3 separate regions of the Homo sapiens genome follow, and all the other regions are linked to region 1. Evidence: fine-mapped expression QTL. A gene starts in region 1. Each other region holds a variant in brackets. All regions are shown on one strand. Distances are between the middles of the regions. Region 1 holds the start of MRC2 (mannose receptor C-type 2). Region 2 overlaps LOC112268200 (a long non-coding RNA gene). Region 3 overlaps EFCAB3 (EF-hand calcium binding domain 3).

Region 1 (10,833 bases):
CATGTTGGCCAGGCTGGTCTCAAACTCCTGACCTCAGGTGATCCACCCGCTTCAGCCTCCCAAAGTGCTGGGATTACAGGCGTGAGGCACCCCGCCTGGCCTAAGGATTCCTCTTCTAATACAGGCCTTGGGTTGGAAGTGAGTGGATATAAACTCAGAGGCTTTCCTGGGATCGGGGAGCCCTTCTAGGTGTTCTCCACAGAAGGGAGAAGGGAAAGAACCTAGAGAAAGTGGGCAGAATTTTTGTCAGGTTGTAACTGTGGCTGGATGAATGGTGAGGAGGGCTGGGGTGGACCAGTCAAGAGAAGACAGACCAGCTATAAGGTTCCCCAGTCATGTGGGCGTGGGAAAAAATAGTTCCTTTAAGTTACCCTTGGAAGAGGTTGAACTAGATATTGAACTATGGGTCTTTCTGAATCCTGAGCCTGCCTTCTTCCTTCCCTCTTTAGCCCAGTCCCCTCTAGGATCCTTGGTGGTGTAGACGAGGGTGTAGCCAGATGGACTTGGAGTGGATTGCCTGAGTGGAGCCCCGGGGATTTGAGATGCAGGAGCCAGGGAGAAGAGAGGGTGAGACCCACTTGGGCCAGCCCCACATTTGGCCAGTCCTCTTCCCTGGCTTGGAGAAGGTGCAGGGTGGGGCAGGTCATACAGAACCCTTTGGGGTCACTGCCTCTTTTCTAGTTGCCTCAGGCAAGGACTGGCCAAGTCTTTTTTTTTTTTTTTTTTTTTTTTGAGACAGAGTCTCACTCTGTCACCCAGGCTAGAATACAGTGGCGCAATCTCAGCTCACTGCAACCTCTGCCTCCCAGGTTCAAGTGATTCTTCTGCCTCAGCCTCCTGAGTAGTTGGGACTACAGGCGCCCGCCACCACACCCGGCTAATTTTTGTATTTTTAGTAGAGAAGGGGTTTCACCATATTGGCCAGGCTGGTCTCAAACTCCTGACCTTGTGATCCGCCCGTCTCAGCCTCCCAAAGTGCTGGGATGACAGGCGTGAGCCACCGCACCCGGCCCAAGTCTTTCTTTATAGCCTCCTACCCTACCAAGCCATCCAGTTGCATTTTCCCTCCCTGTCTTGAGTTCTTCTTTCCTAAGCTTCTGTTGTAGACCTGGCCTGCTGGAGTGCTCTGCTCCCCTGGGAACCCTCTGGCTGGAGAGGCTCCTGAGCCACAGAACCAGAGAAGAGGAGAGTAATGCCAGAGGATCCCTAAGCACAGTGAGTAATGACACCAAAACTTACACCTCACAGGGCACCTGAGACTCAGGGAAGGGAAATGACTTGCTCGAGGACATGTGGCTAGTGAATGGCAGAGCCGGAACTCCACTCACCTCCACTCCCCAGGCCTGGACTCACCCCACTGCCCCATGCCGAGCTGTTTATGGACACACATTTATTAGCCAAAGTGAGCATGCTTCTTATTAGATTACTTTACACTTTAGGGTACCATTTTTGTACACAATTAAATATGGAGATGTTCAGAAAATGCAGGGATGTTGTATTGTTTTCCCAGGCAAAGTAAAACTCAATGTTACAATCCGATAAAACTGATATGTGCAGATTTCATGGGCAGGGTAGGGTGGGAGGGTAGGGGAGAGACAGGCAGGGTGAAGGGTAAGGACCCTGATGTCCAAATGGCAAAGGAAGATGGGAGATGGAGGAGACCACATTCCCTGAACATCCCCATTCATCCAGCGGCCATGCCATTGCTTTACACTTAACATTTAACTCCCAAGGTAGGAAACATCTCAAGTTGCCCCATTTACAAGTAAGAATTATTGTGAGCTCAGAGTTAAAGCATTAATAACTTGCTGCAGGTTACAAAGCTGGGAAATGGCGAAGTCAGGATTTGAACTCAGGTTTCTCTGGATCCAAAGTCTGTACTCCTTCCACTAAACTGTTTGATTGATTGATTGATTAAAGACAGGATCTCGCTCTGTTGCTCAGGCTGGAGTCCAGTGGTGATTATAGATTCACTCCAGTCTCAAATCCCGGGGCTCAAGTACTTCCCCTGTCTTAGCCTCCCAAGTAGCTAGGACTACAGGTGCATACCACCATGACCACGCCCAGCTAATTTTAAAAATTTTTGTAGAAGTGTGGTCTTGCTATGTTGCCCAGGCTGATTGTTAACTCCTGGCCTCAAGTGATCCTCCCACCTTGGCTTCCCAAAGAGCTGGGATTACAAGACCTGAACCGCCACACCTGGCGTAAACTGGTTTTGATGAAATTAGCAGACCCACAGGGGGTGATGCTAATACAGGATTAGACCATTCTCTCATTGCTATAAAGAAATACCTGAGACCAGGCCGGGTGTGGTGGCTCACACCTGTAATCCCAGCACTTTAGGAGGCTGAAGCAGGTGGATCACCTGAGGTCAGGAGTTTGAGACCAGCCTGGCTAACATGGTGAAACCCCTCTCTACTAATTAGCTGGGCATGGTGGCACGTGCCTGTAATCCCAGCTACTCAGGAGGCTGAGGCAGGAGAATCGCTTGGACCTAGGAGGTGGAGGTTGCAGTGAGCCAAGATTGCACCACTGCACTCCAGCCTGGGCAATGGAGTGAGACTTGATCTCAAAAAAAAAAAAAAAGAAAAGAAATATCTGAGGCTGGGTAATTATAAAGAAAAGAGGTTTAATTTGCTCATGGTTCCACAGGTTGTACAGGAAGCATGATGCTGGCATCTGCTCAGCTTCTAGGGAGGCCTCAGGAAACTTAAAATCATGGCGGAAGGGATGCAGCAGTTCACATGGCTGGAGCAGGAGCGAGACAGAGAGTGGAGAGGTGCTGCACACTTTTAAATGACCAGTTCTCGTGAGAACTCACTGTCATGAGAACAGCATCAAGAGGATGGTGCTAAACCATTCATGAGAAATCCACCCCCGTGATCCAATCACCTCCCACCAGGGCCCACCTCCAACACTGGGGATTACAATTTGACATGAGATTTGGGCGGGGACACAGATCCCAAACCATATCACCCTCAGTACCTGTTGCTGGCTGACAGTTGGTCAGTGTCTAGGGGAGAACCATTCTCAGCTTCAGTTCCACGATAGCGAATACCATCTTGGCAAAAATCCCCTGGACAAGTCAGAGACCTCACTAAGTCTCCAGCATCTAGCCTGATGCCTGACACATACTGACCCTCAATAAACGGCTGTTCAACTGTGGGCACAGGAATGGTGAGGAGGCTGTGGGCACAGAGGACGCTGGCCCTTCTTTGGAAGCAGATGAAGGTCTGGGTGTTGATGAGGGGTTCCTCGAAAGTCCCATGCTGCTCACAACACCCAACACTCCTACAGACTGTGACCATGTTCTGTTGACAACTGAGCCTGCACAGGATCTTTATGCAGTAGGGAACCGGCCCGGATTCTCCACAGGGAGAATCTCCCAGATGTTTCCCCGCTTTCTGCCCCAAAGTCAAGATCAAAAGCAGTTGGCAGCTGCAGACATCAGCAGAAGTCAGTGGAACACAGTGTGGAACCATGTCGCGCTGGAGGAGGAAGTCTCGCGCTGGAGGAGGAAGTCTCACCCTTGACAGAGACTAGAACTGGGCCTTAGAAGCTTGAACCAACCTCTGTCCCTGCGAGAGCAGCACACTTTTGTGCTCCTCAGCCCTTGCGTCTTCTTTGCCTGGAATATGGCAAAACGTTTATTTTCCCCCACTAAATGAGGCTCCTCTAGGGCTGCAACTGTGTTTGCCCATCTCTCTTTCTCTAGCAGCTAGCACAGGGCTAGCAGTCGGTGCTTGTTGAGCCGGTGGGTGAAGAGACGAGAGCACACCTCCTGTGTGCCCGGCATGGCGGGACCTGGTGCCGGCAAGTGGTGGGCTCTCTGGCCTCATGCTCTGCGCTGGTGATGTCAAGGGGTGGGCTTCTGTCCTGCCACTGATAGTAGGAGGGAAGGCCAGCAGGAAACGCCGAAACCTACTCAAGCTGCTGGAGAAGGGGGAATCCAGCCCTGTTTCAGGGGAAGGAGTATCCTGTGTTCTGAGAGCGAGAGAGCAGCTTAGCCGGCAAATCCTTAAATCCTTCAGAGATTACAGGATTGTGCAAGAGGGAAGGCCAAGAGGGGGACCTCTGAGGCAGCTCCAGCATGGCCTGTTGTGTGCAGAGGACTGAGATCCCAGAACATGCCACACCAAGAAGACATGTCCCAAGGGGCAGTGGAGCCACAGCCACCAGAAGGGACCTGGCCCTGTCGGACCTGCTGAAGCTAGCCGTGGAGTGCAGGGGCTTTGTTGGTCTGGCTGCTAACCAAAGGGTGGCTAATGGGACCCTTTCCAGGGGCCTCTAGGGGATTTCAGTGGGGGCTTGCTTCGAGGCTCTATTACCACTGGACTGTTTACCAAGAGCCTCAGCCTGACAGAGATGGGAAGAGACGAGTGAGCATTTCTGACCCAACACCCCCACTGCAGAGTTGGGGAAACATTTACCCAAGATAGGAGGAATAAAAAGGAAAAAAATTGAATTTATTTCCAAAAAACATACCAAGGTGGACAAGATAGGAAACAATACAATTTATATTACAGTTTTATTATTATTTAAAAATTTTATATTAACAAAATGAGATGGGATCTGCCTATGTTGCCCAGGCTGGTCTTCAACTCCTGGGCTCAATCTCCTCGGCCTCCGAAAGTGTGATTACAGGCGTGAGCCACCGCACCCGGCCCATATTACAGTTTCATAGTGTTTTTGATTACTCGTGGTAGGAGAAATGTGTCTTCTTTGCACTTGGGGTCTCAACGTCTCAGTCCTGCCCTATGCCCCGAGACCCCAAGAGGCTTTCCCAAGGTCAGGCAGGGAATCCGCAGAGAGGCAGGGCTGGACTCCAGCATCCTGACTCCCCAGTTCGTGCTCTGTGCTGCAGAGACCTGTTGCGTAACACTGAGTAACTGTGGATTGTCTAACCTTTTATGAAATTTCCAGCTGGTCTTTTGCTACCGGCCAGCAGTCCAGTTGGTGGGAGTGATGATGCCGGTCTTCTGAGACGTCCAGTGGACAGATTTTCCCCAGGTTTCTGGATGCAGCCCCAACAAGCAAAAGTGCTACACTCCTGCACCGGGAACACTGACACAGGGGTCACGAAAATGCTAAAACAAGACGTGCAAGAATTGTTGCGCTCCGCACACGTAACAAGGGCTCTGCCTCCCCCTCCCCCAATCTTCGCCCTGGTGGCCAGGCCCTGGGCTCCGCCCCTTCCCCACCAGACCGGGGGAGGGGTCCTCCTCGGCATGGAGGTAGGGGATGCTAGGCTGCTGGAGACGCCCGCAGAAAGAGGCGGGATGGCGGGGCGGATGCTGGCGGCCCGGGTCTGGCCACCTGGGTCAGCTGCACGCCCCCGCCCCGGGCTGGCCGGACCTCGTAGCCCAGGTCCCACCACGCCGTGAAGTTTGCGGAAAGTTTTGCAGTTGCTTCCCCGCCCGCGCCAGCGGGGGAGTTGTGACGCAGCGTCTGGGGATCCTGGCCGGGACAGAAGAGAGGGAAGGCGAGGCGGGGAGAGACTGGGAAACAGAGCAGCAAGAGAAAGGGCGCACGCTGGGGTCCTCCTGGACCCGGCGTGTCCTCCTCTCCGCCACCCCTTTCTCTCCCTCCCGACGCTCTAGCCCCAGACCCGCGCCTCCTCCCCTTCCCCTCCCACGCTGCCCACTTCCCTTCCCCTCTACCCCTCGAACCCTCCTCCCCGGTTCTGCGCTCCTCCCTCCGCCCTCCCTCCGCCCGGGCTGCCTCCTCCCTCCTCCTCCCCGGGAGGCATCACTTCGTCCCGACCCGGAGGAGGACGCGAGCCCCTTGCGGGCGGTCATCACAGCCCAGCCTCGGGGCTGCCACAGCGCGTTGCGCCTGTGCGCCCTCGGTCCCCGCGTCCACTGAGCGCCGCGCTCGGGGATGGGGCCCGGCCGGCCGGCCCCCGCGCCCTGGCCTCGTCACCTGCTGCGCTGCGTCCTGCTCCTCGGGTGCCTGCACCTCGGCCGTCCCGGCGCCCCTGGGGACGCCGCCCTCCCGGGTAAGGCGCTGCCAACTTGGCCAACTTCAGGGCCCGGGCGGGGGGAGCGCCGAGGCGCGGGCCGCTCTCGACTTTTCCCTCCTTTTCCCCCCTCTTTTCTCCAGAAGCGTGTGTGCGTGTGTGTGTGACTGGGTTTTTAAAACTCGTCTCCGCTTTTCTGAAAGCGGGGGAGGAGAGGGGAGGAGGAGCGCGCCTAGAGGTGGGGGAGGACCTGAGTGGAACCAGATGTGGCGGGCGGCGGGGGAGGGGAGCCCGGGGGACTCCAGCAGCCTAGGAGGAAGCGGGTGGGCTCTTGAGGACCCCCGCGCACCGCGCTCCCGGACCACCCGGCGCCGGCCCGTCCTCGGCAGGGGACCTGCAGGGCGCGCCCGGGGAGCCAGGGCTCTCTGTCCGGGAGTTCCCGGGCCCAGTCTCCTCGCTCTGCCCCAGGACTGATGCGTTAGGACGGCTTTCCAACTATCCGCGAGGGTTCGTTTCCCCCACCTTCCCCCCGCCCCCTGCATCTCGTGGGCGTTGATATTTTCTTTTCCACACTTAGTCTTCAAGGAGGCTTGTGGCGCGCGGCATCCGCCCCGCGTGAGCTCGGCAGCCCTGTGAGGAGGCTCCTGCCACTGGGACGCAGCAACAGGCTGGGCGCCGCCGTGCTGTGATGTTGCGTAGCGTGGGCAGCTCTGGGCACACTAGTGGCCCTCCAGAGGGGACAGACCTTGAGCGGCAAAAGAGCTGCTAAAGATTTTAAAACCCAACGAACAGGAAACAAAACAAAAATCAGAAAACCCCAAAACTGTGCCATTCTCTTCCTGCTCCTTATTCAGGGGTAACAGTGAAGTGTGGGGACAGACAGATCCCTCGCCAAGAATCTAAGAGTTGAAAGGAAAGATCCACTTCCTGGGGGAGTGGGGGTGGGGGTGTCTGGAGTGACCGGGGGAATCGCCCGGCCCAGCTTGGTCCTGCTGGCTGTTTAATTGGGGGATGGGGACAGTCCGTGCAGTGTCTGCAGTTTTGTGCAAGGACCAGACAGCCCCCTGGAGAGTCTGGGGCCTCCAGCCTGGCCCGTGCTTGCTGGGTTGGCCTGGCGTGACGTAGGCACAAGACACATATCTGCCAGATGGGAAAGGTGGGGGCCACGGTGACCCACATTCACACCAACCGGAGACCCCCGGGGCAATTCTGGGCCCACCTGGCATTGAATGTGGGACAGACACAAACCAGGCCGGGTAACCCCCTAACCCACTGCAGGGCGGCCTCACAGGCAGTTCCCCTACCTCCTCGCACTCCTGCCTTCCTCTGCTCCTCTGCGCAGGGCCTCAGGAGGCAGGCGGTGGGAAGGGGTGGGGAGGATGGCCATTCCCAGAGCTCCAGAGCACACTTTAAAGCCAGGCCCTGGGAGAGAGTTGTGGCCAGAGTGCTGACTCGGCCTTTCCCCCTGGAGCTTTTCATAGAGGGGGCTGGAAGTGCCTGGTGAGAGGCCCGGTCAGGGAGGACAAGGACGCCTGGAGTGTCCCTCCTCCTCCTGGTCTCTGTGCCTGGCCCTCCCTGGGGCTGTGTCCAGGGATGAATAGCCTCAGAGGGTCCCCTTCCCGTTGGCACTGCATTGACCACACCCTGAGGAGGCTTGGATCTGGGTGGCAGGCAGTGTGAGGTCTTCCAGCAGCAGCTGAGCAGGAGGAGGATGGAGCTGCTGCAGGTTCCTTCCCTCGGAACCGTGCCCTCTGCACAGAGTGCGCTTGCCCCTGCCCTGCCAAATTCCACTGGGCCCTACCCTGGGAAGCCTGTTCAGAGCCTCTGGGCCGAATTCCTTGCCCGAAGAGCTGGCAGCCCCTAGTACCTGGTGAATTACGTTGTTGTTGGGAGGAATTCACCAGCACCAGAGACCAAATAGCCCAGGAAATGCATGTGGGAGGTAGGGTGTGGCAGGCCAGTGCTGCTGGGGGCGAGGCTTATGCCAGGCAGGGCAGGGGCTGCGTGTGGGCAGTTTCCTGACCACCATGGGGGAGCCCTGTGTGCCCAGAGCACGGGGCAGGGGCAGCGAGGCGGCAGTGCCTTCTTGGTGCGTGATGGTGGAATCCATCTTTTCTCCACCTTGGTGGAGTGGCCCGCGGAGACTGTCACTGGAAGGAGTCCTCTTTGTTAGTTGCCATATTACCGCATTTCTGGAGCATGCAGTTTGCTCAGCCTTGAGCCAAGTTCTTGGGGAGGAGGGAAGGTAGAGAAGAGTGTAAGATGCATCCTCTGGAAAAAGAAAATCGTGTGGGAGAATGAAACGTGGAACAGTGAACTGCGTAGGGGGCAGAATGCCATTGGTGGGATGCCTGCCTGCCCAGACCCACGCTCAACCCTTCATGTGCAAGTTCCCATTTCATTTTGATAACAACCCAAGGAGATGGTTATTGTTGGACCATTTTTGCAGTTCAGGAAATGAAGGCTAAGAGGGGTCTGATCATTTACATTGGTCACACCCCTAGTAAGTGAAAGGCTGGAGTGTGGATGCTTCCCGTCTGGAGATTGGAGGCAGGAGAGACCGTATGGGCCAAAGGGTGGCCAAGGCTGTCTGGAGAGAGGCAGGAAGGGGCCACCAGGCTGGGCTCTTCTGGGGATGATGTGGAAGCTTGCTGGCTGGGCCGGGGAGAAGGTTGAGTGAAAGAGGTGCCTGGGAGGCCAGAATGGGGATGGGACCTGCAAGCTGGCTGTGGGGAACCCCAGGGGACCCTTGGAGGTTTCCGAGCAGAGGAATGAGGGGATAGTTGCTGGGAAAGGGGCTTCTGGGAGCTCCAGGGATCAAGTCTCAAGGCCATGGGGTGAGGAGACCTCAGGAAATCTTCCTGTGGGGAAGGTCGGTGCTGCCTAAAGGACAGGGAGGGTGGCATCGGGTACTTGGGGCTCTGACCAGAGTCAGCCAGACCAGCTCCCTACACTTCTGGCCCAGCTTCTGCTGAGTCGTGGGGTTCGGAAACTTCTTACTGTTCCCCCACGCAAAACTCAGTTTTCCTTGCTCCAACCCTCTGGCTCTCTGTGAGTCATCAGGGCCCAGGAGGTGCCCAGCCGAGCTGTGGCTAGTGCTGGGATCCTGGCTCTCTTCTGGGTTCACCTGGGCAAGGTGAGGGTACATGGAGGGGAGGAAGAACCCCGGGTTTTGGCCCCCATTTTTCGCACCAGAGAAATCCTGGCTTTCTGATGCACGTAGGGCACCGTGACTTGGCTCAATGAGATGATTTCGGAAGTGCCATGCAGTTCTCAGGCAGATATTCATTTGAGTTCCTCATCAGTTTAAGCATCGAGGAGGAGTCCTGTTGCACTGTCCATACCCCCAGAGGGATGGAGCGATGGCACCCACGGCTGCGCTGTGCATGTGGTGGGCGCCGTGCTGGGTCCTGTGCTGGCAGTAGCTCTTCGGCACCTCCCATCTCTGAGCAGGTGTCAGAGATTTGCACACACCTGGCGTGAAAATGTTAAAGATGTTAAGGGAGTCACTCAAGGCTGTGCCACCACACCACTAGAAGGTGTTACCAGTGAGATTCGAACCCAGGAGTGGTTACGGAGCCTGAACGCTCCAGTACCATACAGCGTTTCCATCGCATGAAGCACTGTCAGTGTGTGTGTGTTAGGAAAGCCTGGGAAATTCTGCCTTATGTGTTCTCCCCGCCCCCATAACTCCAAGCCCTCTAGGACACCTCTCAATGTGTCCCACCGGGAGGACTCCTGAGGAGGAGGGTGGAGCGAGCAGCCCTCTGTCACATGTCAGCGGTCTGGGCGCTTGGGTCAGCCACTTCCTTGTGGGTCCAGGAGGCCTGGACCGAGCCGCCTGCAGTGTCCTCAGGATCTCTGAGGGACCCCCTCCAAGAAGGCATTGATAAGTGAGTGACTCAAGGTGCCCCAGCATGGCACTCCAGCTTCCCTGAGGTCAAGGATTCACATGGTTGTTCATTCATTCATTCATTCCTTCAGTGGGTGTCTGCTGAGCTCCTGCAGAACTGAAGTAGAGATGGCCATGGCCTATTCTTTATTTGAGACCTCCCCACCGTGTCTCCAGTGGGGGTCCCTGGACTTGGAAGGCCTGAGCACTGCTGATAGGAAGCGTGTCTTCCTGTTCAGGCCTACGTGAGATGGGAGGGGGCCGCTTTCCCACGCCTGGGTCCTGTGAATCTGGGTGGGGTGGGCCAGTGGGGTGGTGACGCGCTCCTGGAGCTCACCCTGGGCCCTGCAGATCTGTCACTCTTCAGCTAGGGGTTGTACCAGTAAACGGCAGCTGGATGAGGGCTGTCCAGTGGCACCTGTGACACCGGGGTCTGCCGGGGTCCACCAGCTGCAGCCCTTTAGGAAACAGATTGGGTCGACCCCCTCAACTGCACACTGTGGCCCCTCGTGGAATTCCACCGGTTGTTTCCCTTCTTGCACTTCCCCCTGGCCCCTCGTCTCTCCTTCCGCCGCTGGGCACCAGCCTCTTGGCTCTGCACTCTCACAGCGCAGACCCTTCCACCTGCGCTCTGCTCCCCTCAGCCTCCCACTCCTCCTGATTTCTCTTTCTCTGACTGTGCATTCTGCCCTCCGCAGCTCTGGTTTTTGTTGTAGAAGAAGGACCAACTTCTTCCTAGTTTCCCCGGCCCCCCATGCCTCTGGTCTCTTGTCCTGCCCCAGCTTTCTCCACCTCCAGGCTTCTGCCCACGCACGATCACTTTGCCTGGTGTGCCTCCCCTCCCCTCTTCTTTCCCACCTTCCAGTGACCCTTCCTTCGAGACTCAAGGATCCTGGGGAGGACGCTGAGGGAGCCTGGTCCCTGCCTCTTGGGCTGACCTGGGGTGACGAGAGACAAGCACACAGACATGGCCCATGGTGAC
Region 2 (10,833 bases), 160 kb before region 1:
CTAACACGATGAAACCCCGTCTCTACTAAAAATACAAAAAATTAGCCAGGCATGGTGGTGTGCATCTGTAGTCCCAGCTACTTGGGAGGCTGAGGCAGGAGAATGGCGTGAACCCGGGTGGCGGAGCTTGCAGTGAGCCGAGATCATGCCACTGCTCTCCAGCCTGGGCGAGAGAGTGAGACTCCATCTCAAAAAAAAAAAAATTACAAAAATTATCTGGGTGTGGTGGTGCACGCCTGCGGTCCCAGCTACTTGGGAAGCTGAGGCAGGAGAATTGCTTGAACCCGGGGGGTAGAGGTCGCAGTGAACTGAGATCATGCGCCACTGCACTCCAGCCAGGGCGACAGAGCAAGACTCCATCTCTCAAAAACAAAAAAAAAAAACACAAAAATTAGCTGGGTGTGGTGGTGAGCGCCTACAGTCTCAGCTATTCGGGATGCTGAAGCTGGAGAATTGCCTGAACCTGGGAGGTTGCAGTGAGCTGAGATAGAGCCACTGCACTCCAGCCTGGGCGACAAAGTGAGACTCCATCTGAAAAAAAAAACCAACAAAAAACAATAGAATACACATAATTAATTAATAGAGCAGTCCTAGTGGCCCCCATAGTGAAATTCTAATGCCTTGCAGAGAACAGAATCAAACTGTCAACCTCTGTAGGCTATTCTGTATTCACAGATTCATTTGTAGAAGATGCATTTCATTATACGTTGTGTTTTTAGCAGTTACAGTGATGGCATGTTCCTTGGCAACTTCAGCTTGGAGAGATGAGATTTGTAGCAGAAAGCACTCATCTGCATTTCTTCTCTTCCATCTCAAAGAGCAGTGAAGAGGCTGTAAGGCCGTCTGGTTTCTGAGGAACTTCAGCTTTACCCTCAGGCAGGTTCCGCTGCTCCATCAGGCCTATGACACTGTTAGGGGCCCTGGAAATTGTTTTAATTAATTTTAAAATCAGAAGAAAATATGCATATAATAATAATGAATATTATGAGAATGAATCTAGACCAAATGATGATCCCTTACCCCCGCCCTTGTCCAGGTGAATGGAGAAGGCCATGCATGTGTCCTGAGCTGAGCCAGTCAGAGCCCCTGCCCCGGACCCCAGATGGAGAGGACAGCCCGCTCCAGGCAGCAGGATCTGGATAGTAAGCGCTGGGGAGCTCTGGGAGGCCAGGAAGGTGGAGGGGAGGCAGCCAGGGGATATTCCAGGGTGACAGCATGGCAGGCCAGGGTGAAAGGAAGTATAAAAGCCCCCAGACAGGAAAATATCTGCATTCAAGCAGCTAAAGGCAGGCCCCGGAGGGTCCCCGGCAAGAATGGTGGAGGAGGCTGGAGATGAGATAGAGGCAGGGTTGGACCACCTGGGCCTTATAAGCCAGAAGGAGCTGAGATTTTTTTTTCACTCCAATGAGCAGCTATGAAAGGGTTTTAAGGGAGGGAGTGACCAGATCTGATTTACATTTTAAAGAGATTAGCACTGTGGAAAGTGTACTGTGGAGGTGGGGCAAGAGCTGAGAGCCACATGGAGGGCCCTGGATACTTCTGGACTCTGAATGGGGGGCCAGGCTTCAGCGATGTAGGTGAGGATGGAGACAGGTGGGTCCAAGAGGACCTGTGGGTGGAGGGGCTGGAGGGGGAAAGGAAAGGCTGTTATCAAGGATAAATGGTGGTGATGGTCGTGCTGTTCTGCTCCTGAGCTGGGGAAGAAGGGAAGACATGAAGACTTCTGTTCAGACCCATTGAGGTACCCATGGCACACACACATGGAAGTGTGGAGAAGGCAGTGGAACATGTCAGTCTGGAGTGGGGGACACAGGTCAGGGCTGGACGCCCCTGGATGCTGGAAGTGTGGGTGGCATCAGTGCACAACTGGTGTTTGAAGCCACAAATCTCTGAGTTAGGGAGGAAATGGGAATGTGCTGTGAACCAGAAACTCAGAGGAAACTGCCCTTGTTGAGTCCCTGCTGAAGACAGAGAATGAAGACAAGATAGAGAAGGATTCTTTCTTTCTTTTTTTTTTCTTTTTTGAGATGGAGTTTCACTCTTGTTGGCCAGGCTGGAGTGCAATGGTGCCATCTCAGCCCACTGCAACCTCCACCTCCCAGATTCAAGTGATTCTCCTACCTCAGCCTCCTGAATAGCTGGGATTACAGGCGCCCACCATGCCCAGTTAATTTTTGCATTTTTAGTGGAGATGGGGTTTCGCCATGTTGGCCAGGCTGGTCTCTAACTCCTGACCTCAGGTGTTCCGCCCTCCCAAAATGCTGGCATTACAGGCGTGAGCCACCGCGCCCAGCGAGAAGGATCCTTTAGATCTGGTAATGCAAGTGGCTCCTGACTTTGACCAGAGCCCTCTGGGTGGAGGGAGGAATCTGGAAGCCAAATTGGGATGGGAAGGAAGAGTAAAACAGCATGATCACCAGTGCCTGGCCTCATCTCATCCCTGCCTGGGCTCTGGATTAAAAAACAGCTATGAGCCGGGTATAGTCCCAGCTACTCGGAGGCCGAGGCAGGAGGATGGCTTGAGCCCAGGACGTTGAGGCTGTGGGTGAGCTACAATTGCACCACTGCATTCCAGCCTGGGTGACAGAGCAAGACCCTATCTCTGAAATAAAAAATATTTATACTTAAAAAAATAGCTATATAGGACATTTTGGGGGCAAATGGGGAAATTGGAAAATGGACTCCATATTAGATAATACCTTTTTTTGTTGAGACAAGGTCTCACTCTGGCATGCAGGATGGAGTGCAGGGAGCTCACTGCAGCCTCAACTTCCTGGGCTCAGGAAGTGATTCTCCAGCCTCAGCCTCCTAAAGTGCTGGGATTACAGGCGTGAGCCACCACGCCTGGCCTGTATTAGATAATATATAGCAGCTCTGAATTTGTTGTGTGTGATAATGGTGTGTGGTAAGAGAGAAACTGTAGGAGACACACATTGTAGTATTTAGGGCAGAAAGAGTAGATACTTGAAACTTTCCAGTGCTCCAACAATAACAAAAAATTAAACACATACCCCATACACAGAGAAAGCACAGATGGCAAAATGCTAATTGGAAAAATCTAGGTGAAGAATATTTTAATATTTTTTCAACTCCTCTTTCAGCTTAATTATTTCCTTACAAAGTTGGGTGCAGCCGGGTGCAGTGGCTCACTCCTGTAATCCCAGCACTTTGGGAGGCCGAGGCGGGTGGATCACCTGAGGTCAGGAGTTCAAGACCAGCCTGGCTGACATGGTGAAACCCCGTCTCTACTAAAAATACAAAAAATTAGCCGGGTGTGGTGGTGCATGCCTGTAATCCCAGCTACGTGGGAGGCTGAGCCAGGAGAATCACTTGAAACCCAGGAGGCGGAGGTTGCAGTGAGCTGAGATTGCGCCATTGCACTCCAGCCTGGGCAACAAGAGCAAAACTCCGTCTCAAAAAATTTAAATAAATAAATAAATAAATTAGCTGGGCGTGGTGGCGGGCGCCTGCCTGTAATCCCAGCTACTCCGGAGGCTGAGGCAGGAGAGTAGCTTGAACACAGGAGGCGGAGGTTGCAGTGAGCTAGATCTTGCCATTGCACTCCAGACTAGATGACAGACTGAGAACCTGTCTCCAAAAAAAAACTAAGTTGGGTGCGGTGGCTTACGCCTGTCATCCCAGCACTTTGGAAGGTCGAGGCCGGCAGATCACTTGAGGTCAAGAGTTCAAGACCAGCCTGGCCAACATGGTGAAACCCCATCTCTACTAAAAATACAAAAATTAGCCGGGCTTGCCGGGCACGGTGGCTCACGCCTGTAATCCCAGCACTTTGGGAGGCCGAGGTGGGCGGATCACCTGAGGTCGGGAGTTCAAGACCAGCCTGGCCAGCATGGTGAAACCCTGTCTCTAATAAAAATACAAAAATTAGCCGGGCGTGGTGGCAGGTGCCTGTAATCCCAGCTACTCAGGAGGCTGAGGCAGGAGAATAGCTTGAACCCAGGAGGTGGAGGTTGCGGCGAGCCAGGATCACACCATTGCACTCCAGCCTCGGCAACAGAGCGAGAATCTGTCTCAAAAAAAAAAAAAAAAAAAAAAAAAGAGGCCAGGCGCGGTGGCTCACGCCTGTAATCCCAGCAGTTTGAGAGGCCGAGGCAGGCAGATCATGAGGTCAGGAGATTGAGACCATCCTAACACAGTGAAACCCCGTCTCTACTAAAAATACAAAAAATTAGCTGGGCATGGTGGTGGGCGCCTGTAGTCCCAGCTACTCGGGAGGCTGAGGCAGGAGAATGGTGTGAACCCGGGAGGCAGAGCGTGTAGTGAACCAAGATCGGGCCACTGCACTCCAGCCTGGGCGACAGTGAGACTCCGCCTCAAAAAAAATTTTTTTTAAATTTTAATTACAAAAAGGAAGGGTGACTAGCAGGGTCAAGAGAAAGTTTCATACAATTGAGAAATTTTTTGAAGAATGGGAGCATAAATGTGTGTTGAAAGCAATGCTCATGGAAGGGAGGAGGAGAAGGTGATTATGTCAGCCAGGGGTGAGAGGTGCAGGGCAGAATCCTGGAGGAGCAGGTGGATGGCCCAGAGTGAGGGCCTGGAGGGTGGCCTTTGCCCAGTGTGGGGCAGCCACACGTCAGATGGGCAACTTGGTGGGGGGCTTTCCTGTCTGATGACTTCCCCTCTGTACTCTACGTAGGATATGGGGCTCTCTGCTAAGAAGGGCCAGGAGAGCAATGGGGAGGTTCCCGCAGGGAAAAACTGGTGGGATTTGTGGGTTTGTGTTGACGATCTGGGTGAAGATTGTTTATTGGTTTAGGGAGGGAGACAAGAGGAAAGATTAAGTCCCCACACCTCCAAGACTCAGTTTCTCCATCTGTAACATGAGGAGATTGAACTAGGAGATCTCAAAGGACTCTGAACTCCAGTACGCTCATGGTCCCTTTAGGAAGTGATGGGAAGCATATACTGAATAGCACGAGCCTGGGTTATTTAAGAATTAAGGATAGTGGCTGCTCTGCCTATGGAGTAACCATTCCTTTTTTTTTTTTTTTTTTTGAGACGGAGTTTTGCTCTTGTCACCCAGGCTGGAGTGCAATAGCGCGATCTCGGCTTACTGCAACCTCCGCCTCCCAGGTTCAAGCGATTCTCTGCCTCAGCCTCCCATGTAGCTGGGATTACAGGCATGCGCCACTACCACGTCTGGCTAATTTTTGTATTTTTAGCAGAGACGAGGTTTCACCATCTTGGCCAGGCTTGTCTTGAACTCCTAACCTAGTGATCCACCCGCCTTGGCCTCCCAAAGTGCTGGGATTACCGGCGTGAGCCACTGCACCTGGCAGAGTAGCCATTCTTTTATTCCTTTACTTACTTAATAAACTTCATTTCACTTAAAAAAAAAAAAAGAATTAAAGATAGCTAGTAAAAACTAGACAATTGCCTAAGACGTTTCTAATTGAGGATTAAAACCAATAAATACAAGAAGGCCAGGCATGGTGGCTCATGCCTGTAATCCCAGCACTTGGGGAGGTTGAGGTGGGCAGATCACCTGAGGTCAGGAGTTCGAGACCAGCATGACCAATATGGCGAAACCCTGTATCTAATAAAAATACAAAAATTAGCCGGGTGTGGTGGCGTGTGCCTGTAGTCCCAGCTACTCAGGAGGCCAAGGCAGGAGAATTGCTTGAACCTGGGAGGCAGAGACTGCAGTGAGCCAAGATTGTGCCACTGCACTCCAGCATCCTGAGCGACAGACTGAGACTCTGTCTCCAAAAAAAAAAACAAAAAAACCAATAAATACAAAGAGGCACGTGAAAGGCAGACTGCTGGCCAGGCATGGTGGCTCACGCCTATAATCCCAGCACTTTGGGAGGCCGAGGCAGGCACATCATGAGGTTAGGAGAGTGAGACCA[T/TC]CCGGCTAACACGGTGAAACTCCGTCTTTACTAAAAATACAAAAAATTAGGTGGGCGTGGTGGTGGGCACCTGTAGTCTCAGCTACTCAGAGGGCTGAGGCAGGAGAATCGCCTGAACCCGGGAGGTGGAGGTTGCAGTGAGCCCAGATCTCGCCACTGCACTCCAGTCTGGGTGACAGAGCGAGAATCCTTCTCAAAAAAAAAAAAAAAAAAAGAGAAAGAAAAAAGAAAAAAAAAGAGAGGCGGGTGTGGTGGCTCACACCTGTAATCCCAGCACTTTGGGAGGCTGAGGCAGGTGGATCACCTGAGGTCGGGAGTTGGAGACCAGCCTGACCAACATGGAGAAACCCCATCTCTACTAAAACTACAAAATTAGCCAGGCGTGTAATCCCTGGCGCATGCTTGTAATCCCAGCTACTCGGGAGGCTGAGGCAGGAGAATCGCTTGAACCCGGGAGGCAGAGGTTGTGGTGAGCCAAGATCACACCACTGCACTCCAGCCTGGGCAACAAGAGCGAGACTCTGTTAAAAAAAAAAAAAGAAAGAAAGAAAGAAAAGAAAAAGAAAAGCAGACTGTTTAAGGCTTCAGAGCACCCCTGGGGGAGTGAGGAGGTGGCCCAGAGGCCGAGGGCTCTGAGATGCATGACGAGGTGCTGTTTGGGTGAACACGGTGCGGGGTCCTTTTCAGAGTATATACTGCTTTCTCCTTGCTCTGGCCGAAGTTCACATCACACAGCATGAAGTGAAACAGCACATCAATGTGATGAACACGGTTAACACTGAAGAAACCTGTATGTGCGAGCAAATATAGCATGAAAGGGTTCAGGGAATTTTTTTTTTTTTTTTTTTTGAGACTGAGTCTCACTCTGTTGCCCAGGCTGGAGTGCAGTGGCACGATCTCCGCTCACTGCAACCTCCCACCTCCCAGGTTCAAGCGATTTTTCTGCCTCAGCCTCCCAAGTAGCTGGGACTATTGGCACGTGCCATGATGCCTGGCTAATTTTTGTATTTTTAATAGAGTCGGGGTTTCACCATATTGGCCAGGCTGGTCTCAAACTCCTGACCTCATGATCTGCCCACCTTGGCCTCCCAAAGTGCTGGGATTACAGGCATGAGCCACTGTGCCCGGCCGTCCTGTTTTTTGGTGTGTGTGTGTGTGTGTGTGTGTGTGTGTGTGTGTGTGTGCACGTTTGAGAGGGAGTCTCCCACTGTTGTCCATGCTGGAGTACAGCAGTGTGATCTCGGCTCACTGCAACTTCTGCCTCCCAGGTTCAAGCAATTCTCCTGCCTCAGCCTCCTGAGTAGCTGGGATTATAGGCATGTGCCACCACGCCTGGCTAATTTTTTGTATTATTAGTAGAGACAGGGTTTCACCCTGTTGGCCAGGCTGGTCTTGAACTCCAGGCCTCAAGTGATCCACCTGCCTCAGCCTCCCAAAGTCCTGGTATTACAGGCATGAGCCAATAGTGCCTGGCCAATAGTTTTTTTTTATTTTTATTTTTAAAGGGACAGGGTCTCCCTCTTTCACCCAGGCCGTAACCCTGAACTGCGAGGCTCAAACGATCCTTCTGCCTTAGCCTCCCAACTCCCAAGTAGCTAGGACTACAGGTGCACACCACCATGCCTGGCTAATTTTTAAATTTTCGGTAGAGACGGGATCTTGGTATGTTGCCCAGGCTGGTCTCAAACTTCTGGCCTCAAGTGATCCTTCTGCCTCAGCCTCCCAAAGTGCTGGGATTACAAGCGTTGTGCCACAGTGCTCGGCCAACAATAGATTTATAATATCACTGAGGGCAGGGATTGTGAGTCATCACCAGCTCCCCAGTGACTGGCAGCATGCCAGGAATGGGGGAGGGGAGAGAGGGAAGGAAGGGAAGCTTCTCGGCCTGACAGTTCAGCCAGGTGCAGGCACTGTCATGTTCATGGCCACCAGGCATCTGCCAAGCACCAGGCTCTGTGCTGCCCACTTTACACAGATGGTCTCATTTGGCCTTGATGACAGCCTGTGGAGGTTGGTATTATTTACTCCAAGAGGAAACTAAAGGCAGAGAGTTTAAGTAACTTGCCAAAAGTCACATGGCAGAATCAGGATTTGAGCTCAGATATGTTAAACTGAAGCTTGTGCTCTTGACTGCCTGGCTGTGCAGTCTTCCAGAAGAGCACGGCATGGACTTCTGGAATTCTTGCAGCCACTCGACTCAAAAGCAGTTAGCATAGTGCTGAGCACAGGTAATAGGGCATTTGACAAATGCCAGTGACTGTAGACCGAATGATTGACAGTCTGAAAGAATGAATGAGTGAAGTGACTTCCTGTCTTGTGAGGTTTTTCTCTTCAAATGGAAGATTTCCCCATAGCCTTTGAATGCTCAATCTAATTAAGGCAAAAAGGCATCAGAGAATTGCAGGGCCTTTCCTTTATTAACTGTCAAGTCCAATCTGGAGGCTGTTTATGTGCCAAGGTCAGAGATCAGTCTTTAGCTGCTCTCCTCTCATTCATCTGGCCAACCTCAGAACATAAAGTTTATTGATGCAAAACTGATTGGCAGGCTGGGCTAACGAGCTGGCGGGAACAGGGAGTATCAGAAAGAGTTCTAAGCCAGCGTCGGCTCGGCCCGGCTCCTCTGCTGTCCTAACTTCCCTGTGCTCTAGGTTGCAGGGTCGCACCTTTCAGAAGTGAACCCCAGAAGAGTAGCAAATACTGCCTGGCCTTTTGGCAGTTCTTATGGAGCCCAGTCAAGAGCAGGAGGGGGAGCAGTCCTTTTTCCTGGTTTTGTCTATTAACGTGGAAAGAGCGAGGCATGGAAGATTAGGTAGTATAGTCTTTTTTTTTTTTTTTTTTTTTTTTTTTTTAGACAGAGTCTTACTCTGTCGCCTAGGCTGGAGTGCAGAGTGCAGTGGTGTGATTTCGGCTCACTGCAAGTTCTGCCTCCTGGGTTCGTGCCATTCTCCTGCCTCAGCCTCCCAAGTAGCTGGGACTACAGGCGCCCCCCCACCATGTCCGGCTAATTTTTTGTGTTTTTAGTAGAGACGGGGTTTCACCGTGTTAGCCAGGATGGTCTTGATCTCCTGACCTCGTGATCCGCCTGCCTCAGCCTCCCAAAGTGCTGGGATTACAGGCGTGAGCCACCGCGCCCAGCAGTATAGTCTTAAGACTTCACAAATCAAAGAAATTCCTGTGTAAGCCTCGTCAGGCCTAGGGGTCGTGAAGAGGAAGGTAACTGTTATGCCTACAGTTTGCAGCCAACCCATTAGTAAGCAGCGCCTGTCTGTGGGGAGCTCCTGGCAGTGCCTCCTCCTCCATGCCCAGCAGGAAAGAGAGGCTGGGAAGGATGCATGGGCCACATGCCTGGCTCTACTTGCAGTGCCCCCAGGATAAAAGCCAGGAGGCTGGCCGGGCACGGTGGCTCATGCCTGTAATCCCAGCACTTTGGGAGGCCAAGGTGGGTGGATCACGAGGTCGGGAGATCGAGAGCATCCTGGCTAACACGGTGAAACCCCGTCTCTACTAAAAATAAAAAAAATTAGCTGGGCGAGGTGGCACGCGTCTGTAATCCCAGCTCCTTGCTAGGCTGAAGCAGGAGAATCTCTTGAATCCAGGAGGCCCAGGTTGCAGTGAGCTGAGATCGCACCACTGCACTCCAGCCTAGGCGACGGAGCAAGACCCCGTCTCAAAAAAAAAAAAAAAGCCAGGAGGTGGGCAGTCAGGAGAGACAGGTGGACCTGGGAGCTGTGTCTTCTACTCAAGATAGGGAAAGTACAACTCCCCTGGTTATTATCAGGACCAATTGATTTTGCCTGATCTGAGAGAAAACATCCTGACCACAGGTCACTTGAAATGCCCTGTAATTCAGAAACAGTGGCTGTCCACAGCAGACAGCTATCTGGATTTAAGACCCCAAATTCACACACCACACCACAAATTGTCCACTTACAAGCAAAAAAATAACAAACAGCCAAGCCCCCAACCCACTCTCATTTTATTCCCTTGGTTCCAGGTCTCCTCTGAGCAGGTCATGTCTCCTGGTGTGTTTGCGTACAGGCTGTGGGGCTGGGGGGAAGGAGTCCTTTTTCCTCTTACCCCAGGCAGGGCTGGCTCCAGGTTGCAGAGCTCCACAGAGAAAACTGCTCACTGCAGAGAAGGGCATAGTCCAGCCCAAGCTCTACTCTGATGAGCTCTGAGATCGGGGGTGGTGACTTCATCTTCTATCTATGGCTTGGAACAATGATGATGACCATGACCCTCTGGTTTCAGTTCAGTCAATGAATGGGGAGCAAATTGCTATTGTCAGGCACTAGGCTAGGGAGGTGATTCAGAAAGGCTCCCAGAGACCCACACACCAATCACTAAACTAATATAACACGCTAAATACTACATCTACAGTAGGGATAAAGTGTTTTAGGTACACAAAGGGAGTTGAGAAAAGCTTCAGAGGTTTTCAAAGTGGTTTCCAGACCATCATCAACCAGCCTCACCTGGAAAGTTGTTAGACATACAAATATCAGCCCCACCCCAGACTGGCTGAATAAAAAATTCTGGGGGTGGGGCCCAGCAATCTGCGTTTGAACAAGCCCTCCAGGTGATTATGATGCAACCTAAAGTCTGAGAATCACGTAGAGGTTGGAAAACTACCTTGCAACCAGCAACCTGTTTTTGCAAATAAAGTTTTATTGGAACACAGCCATAATCCATCATTCAGACATTGTTTGTGGCTACTTCCCTTTTAACCAGCAGAGTTGGTAGTTACGACAGAGACAATATGGCCCGCAAAGCCTGATTCTGCCAAATGACTAGACTAGATTTCCCATACTAGGGAGCATAGCCTAGATTTTTTTTCTTTTCTTTTTTTTGAGACAGAATCTCACTGACACGCAGGCTGGAGTACAATGGTGGGTTCTCAGCTCACTGCAACCTCCACCTTCTGGGCTCAAGTGATCTCCCAACCTCAGCTTGCCGAGTAGCT
Region 3 (10,833 bases), 240 kb before region 1:
TTACCATTTCTTGAGGCCCTAGACTTTTCAAACTCCAGGCTTTGAGCTGAAAAAGTTGCAAAAGAATATAAAGAATGAATCTGTAAACTGATTTCTTAATTGTATATTCTGAATTCCAGACAGAGTCACTGGCCACATGGCAGTTTCAGAAATTAAACCAAAACTTAAGCTGAATCCTCTAACAAAAGTACCCATCTCCCACAATAAAAGGTAGGTAATGAATGATTAAGGGTGATAAATGTATTATGATAAAGAATTATTAGTGTTACAGCTCTTTTAGAATTTTGTCTAGCAGGTTTTCCGATCTTTACTGGGAAGCCCCTAAAAAAAAGAAAATTATTGAGATTATTGGCCAGATGCAGTGGCTCACACCTGTAATCTCAGCACTTTGGGAGGCCGAGGTGGGCGGATCATGAGGTCAAGAGATCGAGACCATCCTGGCCAACATGGTGAAACTCCGTCTCTACTAAAAATACAAAAATTAGCCAGGCATGGTGGTGTGCGCCTGTGGTGCCAGCTACTCGAGAGGCTGAGGCAGGAGAATTGCTTGAACTTGGGGGACAGAGGTTGCAGTGAGTTGACATTGTGCCACTGCACTCCAGCCTGGTGACAGAGCAAGACTCCATCTCAAAAAAAAATTACTAATATATTAAATGCTCATAAAGATTATGATGAAACAATTAAAATACTCTTCAAATATTTATTATATGATAACTTTAGTTATAAAACAAAACATCGGAATTGAAGAGAAATATTTTTTATGAAAAGAAAAAGATATACATCTTTTTTGATAGGAAGAGCAGAATTCTCCCTCCTGTCCTCCCAAAGGAGAAGCTGTTTTTATGTTAGGATACAAAATACCCTAGGGGGCTCAAGAAGTTATCAGTTATACCTTGAGATATTTTGAGTGCCAGTTTAAAGAAGAAAAAATTTAGAAGATCATAAAGAAGACCTAAACCCATAACCAAGTCAAAGTGTAGAAAAAGGGTCTATATTTCAAATATAGCTGGTAAACGAAAGCTGGTAAATTAGCCATGACTGACCCTGGGCTAAAATTGGGAAGGGAGATTTACCTGTGACATTAACAATGGCTTTTTCTCAGTCACCTAACAACAAATTTCAATTAACAGCCACTAATGAGCAAAAATGAGAGCCTGATTTATATTTTATCAGATCATAAGAAGAACATTTTTTTCTCTTTCACAATTATCCATTTACTTTCTATTTTGAGTGTATCTTTTCTAGTGTCCTTGACTATGCAAGCTGTCTTTTGAGGGAGTGAGTTCCTTGTCACTGAAAGTAGTTAAGCAAAGACTAGACAATACTACATGTAAAGGGAATTCCTACATTAGATGGAAGGCTGGATTGGGTTCATTCCAAATGTAAGGTTCTTCAGTCATTTGAAACTTTGAAAAATAAAGTCTTTCTCCAATGTTTGATCCAAGATAAGGTCTGAAATTGTGCCAAGAGTGTCTTTTTAAAGACAGATAATAAGAACTTTACATTGCCTGGCCTAGCACGGTGGCTCACATCTGTAATCCCAGCACTTTGAGAGGCTGAGGCGGGTGGATCACTTGAGCCTAGGAATTTGAGACCAGCCTCTACCAAAAAAGATACAAAAATTAACTGGGTGTGGTGGTGCACACTTGTAGTCCCAGCTACTCAAGGGGCTGAGGTGGGAGGATTGCTCGAGCCTAGGAGGCAGAGGTTAGGGTGAGCTGAGATCGCACCACTGTGCTTCAGCCTGGGCAACAGAGCAAGACCCTGTCTTGAAAGAAAAATAAAAGATCTTTACACTGCCTTGAATTCTACTTTCCTCCTGCTTCTTGAGAACATAGTATTTCTCCATGTACTGCATCTTCTACATCATGCAAAAGAAATTTGTTTATATTTAGAAATACAGATGGTCCCCAACTTAACAATGGTTCAACTTACCATTTTTTGACTTTACAGTGGTACAAAAGCCATATGCATCTGGTAGAAACTCTACTTCAAATACTCATACAACTGTTCTGTTTTTCACTTTCAGTACAGGAGTCAATAAATTACATGAGGCATTCAACACTTTATTACAAAATAGGCTTTGTGCTACATGAGTTTGCCCACCTGTAGGCTAATGTAACTGTTCTGAGCACATTTAAGGTAGGCTCGGCTAAGCTATGTAGGTTAGGCAAATTAAATGCATTTTCAATTTACAATATTTTCAACTTATGATGGGTTTATAAGGAGGTAACCCCATCATGAATCAAGGAACATCTGTACAATAAATATAAAATAACCTATCTGAATAAGGACAAACCTGAGCTTCAGAAATTACAGGTTGGGCACAGTGGCACACACTTGTAATCCCAACACTTTGGGAGGTAGAGGTGGGAGGAACACTTGAGCCCAGGTGTTCAAGACCAGCCTGAGCAACATAAGGAGATCTTGTCTCTACAAAAAATAAAAAATTAGCTGGGTATGGTGGCATGCACCTATAGTTCCAATTACTCAGGAAACTGAGGTGGAAGGATCCTTGAGCCTGGGCGGTCAAGGCTGCAGTGAGCCACGATCACATCACTGCACTCCAGCCTGGACTGCAGAGGGAGACTCTGTCTTGAAAGAATGAGAGAAAGAGAAGAAATTCAAGTAGATAATAAAGAGGAAGCACCAGAAGAAGAAAGCAATGTTAGTAAAAACTGAGAAAATAAGACAAGTTAGATAAAATTCCACTTTCAAAAGTTAAGAACAGTTTTGAGACTATCACCTCCTTTTCTCCCAGGCCCCTCTTTGAAAATGAGTTGAATCTAATAAGTACTTTAGGGGATACTAAATTAATAAACCATAATAATTTTTTGTTTAACTACAATGTTTAGTATTTCTTCTAGTTTTACTTTTTTTTTTTTTTTTTTTTTGAGACAGAGTCTTGCTCTGTCACCCAGACTGGAGTGCAGTGACGTGATCTCTGCTCACTGCAAGCTCCACCTCCTGGGTTCATGTCATTCTTCTGCCTCAGCCTCCGAAGTAGCTGGGACTACAGGCGCCCGCCACCATGCCCGGCTAATTTTTTTTTTTTTTTAATTTTTAGTAGAGGCGGGGTTTCACCATGTTAGCCAGGATGGTCTCGATCTCCTGACCTCGTGATCCACCCGCCTTGGCCTCCCTAAGTGCAGGGATTACAGGCATGAGCCACCGCACCCGGCCTAGTTTTACTTTTTAAACTGCTTCTTATAAAGCCACAAAACTATGAGATTTCATATTTTTTAAACTTTTAGTTTTACAAGTATCAAAACTAAATGCATTTTAAATAAATTTATAAAATTGGTTATAATTAAATTTTGGAGTTAAATCACATTTACTTAAATGTAATTAAATTTTATTTATCATATTATAAGCAAACTCAGTTTTACATGATACATTTTTGTGTTCTTAAACTAATAAATTACTTCAGATCTGTACAAAGTATCTTGAAAGTATTAATATGTTCCTGCCTTTTCCAGATTTTACTTTCCTCAATAAATGAAAGGTCACCCAGGGTTTCAAATTTTCAGAGGTGTTCTCTATCTTTATTTCACTCTCTTATACACCCATACATATGCTGGTAAAAATACAGTTTGACGATTGTAAAATAGTTGTAAAAGTTGTAAAAAAAAAAAAGTTGTAAAATAGTCATAGATACAGAGGTTTCTCTGTAAGGGTATTCACCACAACAACGTTTATACAGTTTTAAAATTTGAAACTCAAGGCTGAGAATTGGAGCCAGCAAAAAAGAAAATTGAAACAACTTCTCTTTCTAACAACAGGAATAGTGTAAAGCATTATGGCCTTGACTTTTGGAGTCAGACAAATCTGGGTTTGAATCTCAGGTCTTCCATTTACTATCTGTATAACCTGAGACAAATTATTTAATTGCTCTGAGCTTCTGTTTCTTATTTTGTAAAATGGGGGAAATCGTAACTGGTTTTTTGGGGTTTGTTTTTTTTTGAGATAGGGTCTCACTCTGTCACCCAGGCTGAAGCATAGTGGTGCAATCATGACTCAGTGCAGCCTTGACCTCCCAGGCACAAGCAATCCTCCCACCTCAGCCTCCTGAGTGGCTAGGACTACAGGCCTGTGCCACCACACCTGGCTAATTTTTTTTTATGTTTTTGTAGAGACAGGGTCTTGCTACGTTGCCCAAGCTGGTCTTGAACTCCTGGGCTCAAGCGATCCTCTTGCCTTGACCTCCCAAAGGGGTAGGAGTACAGGTATGAGCCACCATGGCTGGCCTGAAATTATAATTTTTTAAGGGAAGGGTGATGGGCAAGTTTAGGGCAGAGGAGGATCTCAGTGGCCAACATTTTCTCACTGTTCATCCTGTAGCTATGGGCTATCCTAAATAGAAGATCCCTTAGGATAGTAGACTGGATACATTGAGATGCTACAGTCATTCCAGTAAGCAGAAACTGATGAGTAAGACTAATATCTGCTGGTTTCACATAGGTAGTAAATCTAAATATTTTCACATCTTTCCTCAGGGATAGAGACTTACCAGGATCTCTTCAATGCCAATTACAACACAAAGAAAAGAAGCTAAGTGCTTCACAAATGGCAGGTAATGAGAATCATCCTCAAAATTGAAGCATAACAGCTCCTTAATATGTCTGATCCTTTCTTCTCTAAGAAAGATCTGAGATTTCAAGGGTTGTCTACACCACCATCATTTGAGAGAAAGGAAAAAAAACCTTACATTTTTGTGGGACAGGAGGGAAATTGCTTTTAAATGGACATCTCCCTAGAATTTAGGCAGTGCTGGTCAAATAACTGTATTCAAAGAAGAACTTGTGGGTATGGAAAAGAACAAACGCAAAAAGAACAAAAATAACAAAAGAACAAATATAAATCAAGTAATAAAGAACACAAACACAGCTACAGTCCTAGGATTTCTCAAAGAAAACAATATAAAATGAGCTACACTGGCTAAAGTTTATTCATCCAAACAACAAATATTTATTTAATGCCAAAAATGTACTAGGCGTGGGAAACAACAAAACAAGTCAGATGTGGTCCCTGCCCTGATAGGAAGTCTAATAGGGAAGACAGGCTGTTAAACCATGAACTTGCCAGGCACGGTGGCTCACGCCTGTAATCTCAGCACTTTGGGAGGCTGAGGCAGGCCGGGCCGATCACCTGAGGTCAGGAGTCCGAGACCAGCTTGGCCAATATGGTGAAACCTTGTCTCTACTAAAAATACAAAAATTAGCTGAGCGTGGTGGCGGGCACCTGTAATCCCAGCTATTTGGGAGGCTGAGGCAGGGAGAATTGCTTGAACCCAGGAAGCGGAGGTTGCAGTAAGCCGAGATCGCGCCACTGCACACCAGCCTGGGCGACAAAGCGAGACTACGTCTCGAAAAAAAAAAGCCATGAACTTGCTGAATAAATCATTTAAATTACAATATAACACAAGTTATGATAGGAAAAGCATGGAGTGTTATAGGAGCTTAAAGGAAAGCCTCCTAATTTGGTCTTGTGAGGGAAGAAAGGGAGTCCCAGAGAAGGCTGAATGACGAACAGGAGTAAATCAGGCAAATAGCGCTGACAGGAGTTTCTAGGCAGAAAGAGCAGAATCTACAAAGGCCAGAAAAAAGGGAAAGCATGATGCACTAGAAAAATTCAAAGAAGTCAAGTGTGGCTGTGTTTGGGTTGCATCTGGTTTCTGAAGAGGCTGATGCTTTACCCCACTAAATTTAGAACCAATTTAGAAATTGACCCAGGAGACAGAAATGAATCAAAGAATCAATCCACCTTGACCAGCCCTGACAGGGGCAGTCCCTCCAGGGCCACCAAGGCCCCAGATAGCAAAACATCAAATATGGAAACTAGAAAATGTGTTCTTTACAGTGCTTAATCCCCAACTTTCCTATGAGAGGTTAATTTGTTCATTCTATAATCAATCAACCTTTATTGCTGGGAATTTCGGTTT[G/C]GAAAACACAAAGGATTGTCATGATCAGATTGGCATTTTTCATTGTAAAACTGAGCTAAATGCCTTAATAATAACAGCTTATGGTTTTATAGACCTTTAAGGTTTCTAAAGTGCCTTAAGATACTTTGGTACTCATTTTAAGGGGTCTATTTTAGTCAGATATGGTGAGACAGGCAGACGCAGAAATGATGGCCACAAAGGAAGTTTTTCATACTCACAGATCCCTAGAAACAGGGCACAGCATGCCAAGCATGTGGGGCCACAAGAGGAAGCACCAGGGTCAGTCAGGAAGTGGGCAGGGGCAGCATGTGGACAAGAAACTCTATTGTGGTTTCTGCAAGAAGGAATGGACAAGGCAGGGTAAGCAGGTATGGGGTTAGCTAGTTTAAACAATTTCAGTGGGCTCTGGCATGTAAGGGCTGTCCCTAGTTGTCTGGTACCTAGCCCTGGGATGACTAGGGCAGGGAAGTAGTGTCTCTGACTGTAAGAGGTGGAGAAGGCAGGTGGTTGAGGATATGGTCTCTGGAATATGGTCTATGGAATTGGATGGTTTGCAGAGGAAAGACACACTCACAATCTAGTAGTCACTATTCTAGGAATTGACCAGCCCTGAGAGGGGCAGTCCCTCCAGGGCCAGCAAGGCCCCAGATATCAAAACATCAAATATGGAAACTAGAAAATGTGTTCGTTACAGTGCTTAATCCTCACAACTTTCCTATGAGAGGTTAATTTGTTCATTCTACAAATATTTATTGAATACTTCAAGATCCCCAGCATCTCCCATCCTTACTGTCAATTGGTCTGCTTACTTTCCCAAAGAAAACTGAAGCAATCAGATTAGAATTTCCGTAGACCCTCACCTCCATGTCTACCTCCTTACCAGCATCTGTATCCATATACTCTGCCTTCCACCAACTTTTTCTATTTGAGCAATAAAAATTAATAATATAGAATTGATTATAACCCAAAGTATAAAATAAACATCCATGAATCCACACTGATAGAAATAAATGACTAATTATTTAATTTTTATTTATTTATTTATTTTTTTCTGTGCAGTGGTGCCATCTCGGCTCACTGCAAGCTCCGCCTCCCAGGTTCACGCCATTCTCCTGCCTCAGCCTCTTGAGTAGCTGGGACTACAGGCACCCGCCACCACGCTCAGCTAATTTTTTGTATTTTTAGTAGAGACAGGGTTTCACCATGTTAGCCAGGATGGTCTCGATCTCCTGACCTCGTGATCCACCCACCTTGGCCTCCCAAAGTGCTGGGATTACAGGCATGAGCCACCGTGCCCGGCCATAAATGATTAAATTTTCAATAGGAAGAAGAGACAAATGGCAGAGGTAGCAATAGCCGGAGGGGGAAATGGGGTCACAGTGTACTTTTTAAGGGAGAAACAGCAAAAGTTTATACAACAATAGGATTGATATAATAGAAAATGAAAAAATGATATTTCCCTTACCTAAGAGGAGACCCTTTCTTCAGTAAATTCTTTGAATATGAGAGAGGGGATGAGTTCCAATCCACAAGGGAGGGATTGGCTCTGGGTAAGAGCATACAGTTTATTTGCAGCGCAGAGAGAAAGGAAGATCATGCAGGTACAGGTGCTGGTCAGGAAGTAGACATGGAGGTGGGAGTGTGTAGGAATTCTATTTCTCTTCTTTCTAATCATCCACCCAGAATTACTTTTTCTTTTTTCCATGGTACATACCACCTTCTAAAATGGCATCTAGTTTACCTATTTATTACATTTATATGAAGGCACAGATCTTTGTCTATTTAGTGCACTAATATATCCAAAGCACTTGGAGCAATACCTGGTCCATGGAAAGCATGCAATCAATATTTGTTGACTGCCTACTAACATGCAAGAGATAGTGGGAAAAACAGAAACAAGTCAGAGATAGTTTGGTTCCAGCCCTAGAGAAGCCTACCTTTTATCAAGGAGAAAGATGTTACCTTTTACATTACACACTTACAGAGCAGGTATCGTTATCTCTGTAGGAGATTAATCACTGTTATACATAGAGACGCTGAGACTTGAATGTGATATGAAGTAAGTTTTATTCGGGTGTCATTTGGGATATATTTTGTTCCAGGTTTATTTCGTCATTCTCTAATTTCAGAAAATACATACCTAATTTTGGCTCCAGTTAGTGCCTTGACTATTTCTTTGAAAAACTTTGGATTATACAAAACATACATACACACATATGTGATTTGGGTCCAATTTGACAAATTAGTTTTCTATTGCTGCTGTAACAAATTGCCACAAACATAACAGCTTAAAACAACACAAATTTATTATCTCACAGTTCTATAAGTCAGAAGTCCAGGTGGGTACAGCTGGTTTCTCTTCTCTGTGTCTTATAGGACTGAAATTAAGGTGTTGGCCAGCCTGTCCTTAGCCAGGATGGTCTCAATCTCCTGACCTCGTGATCCACGAGGATCTCCTGGAGGAGAATCTGCTCCCAGTCTCATTCAGATTTTTGGCAGAATTCTGTTCTTTTTTCTTGCAGGGCTGACATTCCAGTTTCTTTGCTGTTTATCAGCCAGGAGCTTCTCAGCCTCTTTAGCAAGCAGAGAAGCTCCTGGCTGATAAATCAACAATGGTGGGTCAGGTCTTTCTCATGCTCTAAACCTCTCTGATTTCTGCCACGTCTCTCCAGCTTCTAGCTATATAAGGGATCACGTAATTAGATTGAGCCCAGAATAATCTATCTTAATTATATGTGCAAAGTCCCTTTTGCCATGTAAGATAGCATATTCACTGGTTAAGGGATTACAGTGTGGATATCTTTGGAAAGCCATCTTACCTACCAACACTTGGTTTTGCAACAGTTAGTTCATTCCAGTTCAAGTTCCGTGGAAGGATACTGTCCTTTATAAGAAATGTCTATTAAGCACTCATTTTTTTCGCAATCCTTTTTTTAGAACATGATCTCCAGTCAACTATATTGTCTGTCCTAGTCCTATTAGTGTATGTACTTCTTCTTGAACAACTGTCCTGAATAACTTAATCCTATCTCCCCAGCTTTCCAAGATGCCTACAACTTCTTCTACAAGGACAAAACTGGCTGTATTGATTTCCATGGACTGATGTGCACTGTAGCTAAGCTGGGAATGAATCTGACCAAGCATGATGTCTATAATGAATTGAAATGTGCTGATATTGATCGTGAGTCCTTTGGCTTCTCATTGTTTTTCTCATAAAAGATTTTTGTGAATATATAGTTTTCTTTTAATGACTGTATAAACATGAGAAACAAATCTTATTTACTTGCCCCCCCAAATATATATATATTTGTGTGTATATATATATTTGTATATGTTAAATATATATATACACAAATATATAGTACAAATATATATATTTGTATATTATATGTTTGTAGACTATATATTTGAATACTATATACAAATATACATATATGTATATATCCATATATCTATGTATACACCACACACACACACATATATATATAGCCTTAAAGGGACACACACATATATGTGTGTGTCTGCGTGTGTATGTATGTATGTCCCTTTAAGGAGATCAGTGAGGTATGTGTACAAGTTGTGAAATCAAATTAATCCTAGAAAATGGACTATTTGAAAAACACTGTGTGGAAGCTAAGAGTGATTGTCTGATTTCAGTATCAAATTCAGGTTACCTGTCCTGATGTACAAAAGCAGTAACAATGTTAATAATGACATGTTACCAAGAGAATTCAAGCCTTTTGTTTCTGTTTGAATCAAAACAGAACAAATCTTTCTTTTTCCATCAAGTCCCACCTATATTGAATTTTAAATGCCACAGCACTTTTGTTGGTATTTTTAAAGCATACAGATAATGTTTTTTTTTTTGTTTGAGACGGAGTCTTGCTCTGTTGCCCAGGCTGGAGTGCAGTGGCGCAATCTCAGCTCACTGCAACCTCCGCCTCCTGGGTTCACACCATTCTCCTGCCTCAGCCTCTTGAGTAGCTGGGACTACAGGCGCCCGCCACCATGCCCGGCTAATTTTTTGTATTTTTAGTAGATACAGGGTTTCACCGTGTTAGCCAGGATGGTCTCGATCTCCTGACTTCGTGATCCGCCCGCCTCGGCCTCCTAAAGTGCTGGGATTACAGGCATGAGCCACCATGCCCAGCCATAGATAATGTTTTTAGTGAATATACTGACCGAATTATTAGTAGCCCAAACTGATATGCTGTGTGAAAAATATATTCAGCATATTATCTCCTCTCACCTCTCTCCACCCAACTGCTAGTGCCCTACTCAATCAACATCAGTTCCACCTGTCATTCAGTGTCACTTAAGGTGTCACTTGCTTCTACTAACTGTGTCAAAATTTTCTATTATTTCATGGAAACATACACATACCCCTCTAATAATACTCATCATCCTTCAATTTTAGAGGAAATGGAATACAGCTTGGGGATGTTATAATAGGAATAATAGGGGTGGTTATAGCATGGGAAGACAGGACAGATTCCTTGCAAACATGGCCAGTCTCTGAGAAAGGAGCAGGTGGACAGACTGCAATGGCTGGGTGCTCCTGGCTGGATGTTTACAACCACCGTTGCTTCTGTGGGCTGTGGAGGACTGATGTAATGGTGCTAAGACCACTTCAAGAAGACCAGGGCTCACCTGAGCATATTTCCAGCCCTCAAATGCTCTGTTTTTAATATTGAATCATCCAGAGTGTTTTAATTTTTATATTTAATATATACTCTGATAATTAAAATACATCTTATCCTTGTCCTGAGTCTCAGATTTTTGTTGCAGGAGATGGGAAGGTGAACTTCTCAGACTTTATCAAGGTTCTAACAGATAAGAATCTCTTCCTCAAGGCAGTGGGTGAGTAGAGATGTTATGAACAGAAGGCAGTT

The links. PIP is the estimated chance that this variant, and not a neighbour inherited with it, causes the effect.
Region 2: its variant is the best candidate, but not a certain one, in a credible set for the expression of MRC2 in sun-exposed skin (GTEx, PIP 0.59).
Region 3: its variant is the best candidate, but not a certain one, in a credible set for the expression of MRC2 in lung (TOPMed, PIP 0.71).

Annotation. Positions count from the first base shown.
Region 1 is chr17:62,621,923-62,632,755 of GRCh38, forward strand. MRC2 (mannose receptor C-type 2) reads left to right here and starts at 5,748. Exons shown (of 30, transcript NM_006039.5): 1 at 5,748-5,998. The coding sequence starts at 5,881. LOC107985020 (a long non-coding RNA gene) reads right to left here and starts at 6,128. Exons shown (of 2, transcript XR_001752961.3): 1 at 5,923-6,128; 2 at 4,515-5,087. RefSeq lists enhancers at 3,473-3,973, 3,974-4,474, 8,629-9,485 and silencers at 5,668-6,107, 6,308-6,377.
Region 2 is chr17:62,463,196-62,474,028 of GRCh38, forward strand. LOC112268200 (a long non-coding RNA gene) reads left to right here. Exons shown (of 2, transcript XR_002958142.2): 2 at 1,037-1,143. It also overlaps a transcript of TLK2 not described here. Among named protein-coding and RNA genes, the nearest start is that of TLK2, 10 kb to the right of the region's middle. RefSeq lists enhancers at 671-1,172, 1,173-1,672. The variant T/TC (reference allele first, on the strand shown) is at 5,874.
Region 3 is chr17:62,382,844-62,393,676 of GRCh38, forward strand. EFCAB3 (EF-hand calcium binding domain 3) reads left to right here. Exons shown (of 10, transcript NM_173503.4): 2 at 120-210; 3 at 4,497-4,573; 4 at 8,979-9,122; 5 at 10,730-10,801. The coding sequence starts at 137. It also overlaps the pseudogene RNU7-52P. Among named protein-coding and RNA genes, the nearest start is that of EFCAB3, 7.7 kb to the left of the region's middle. The variant G/C (reference allele first, on the strand shown) is at 5,942.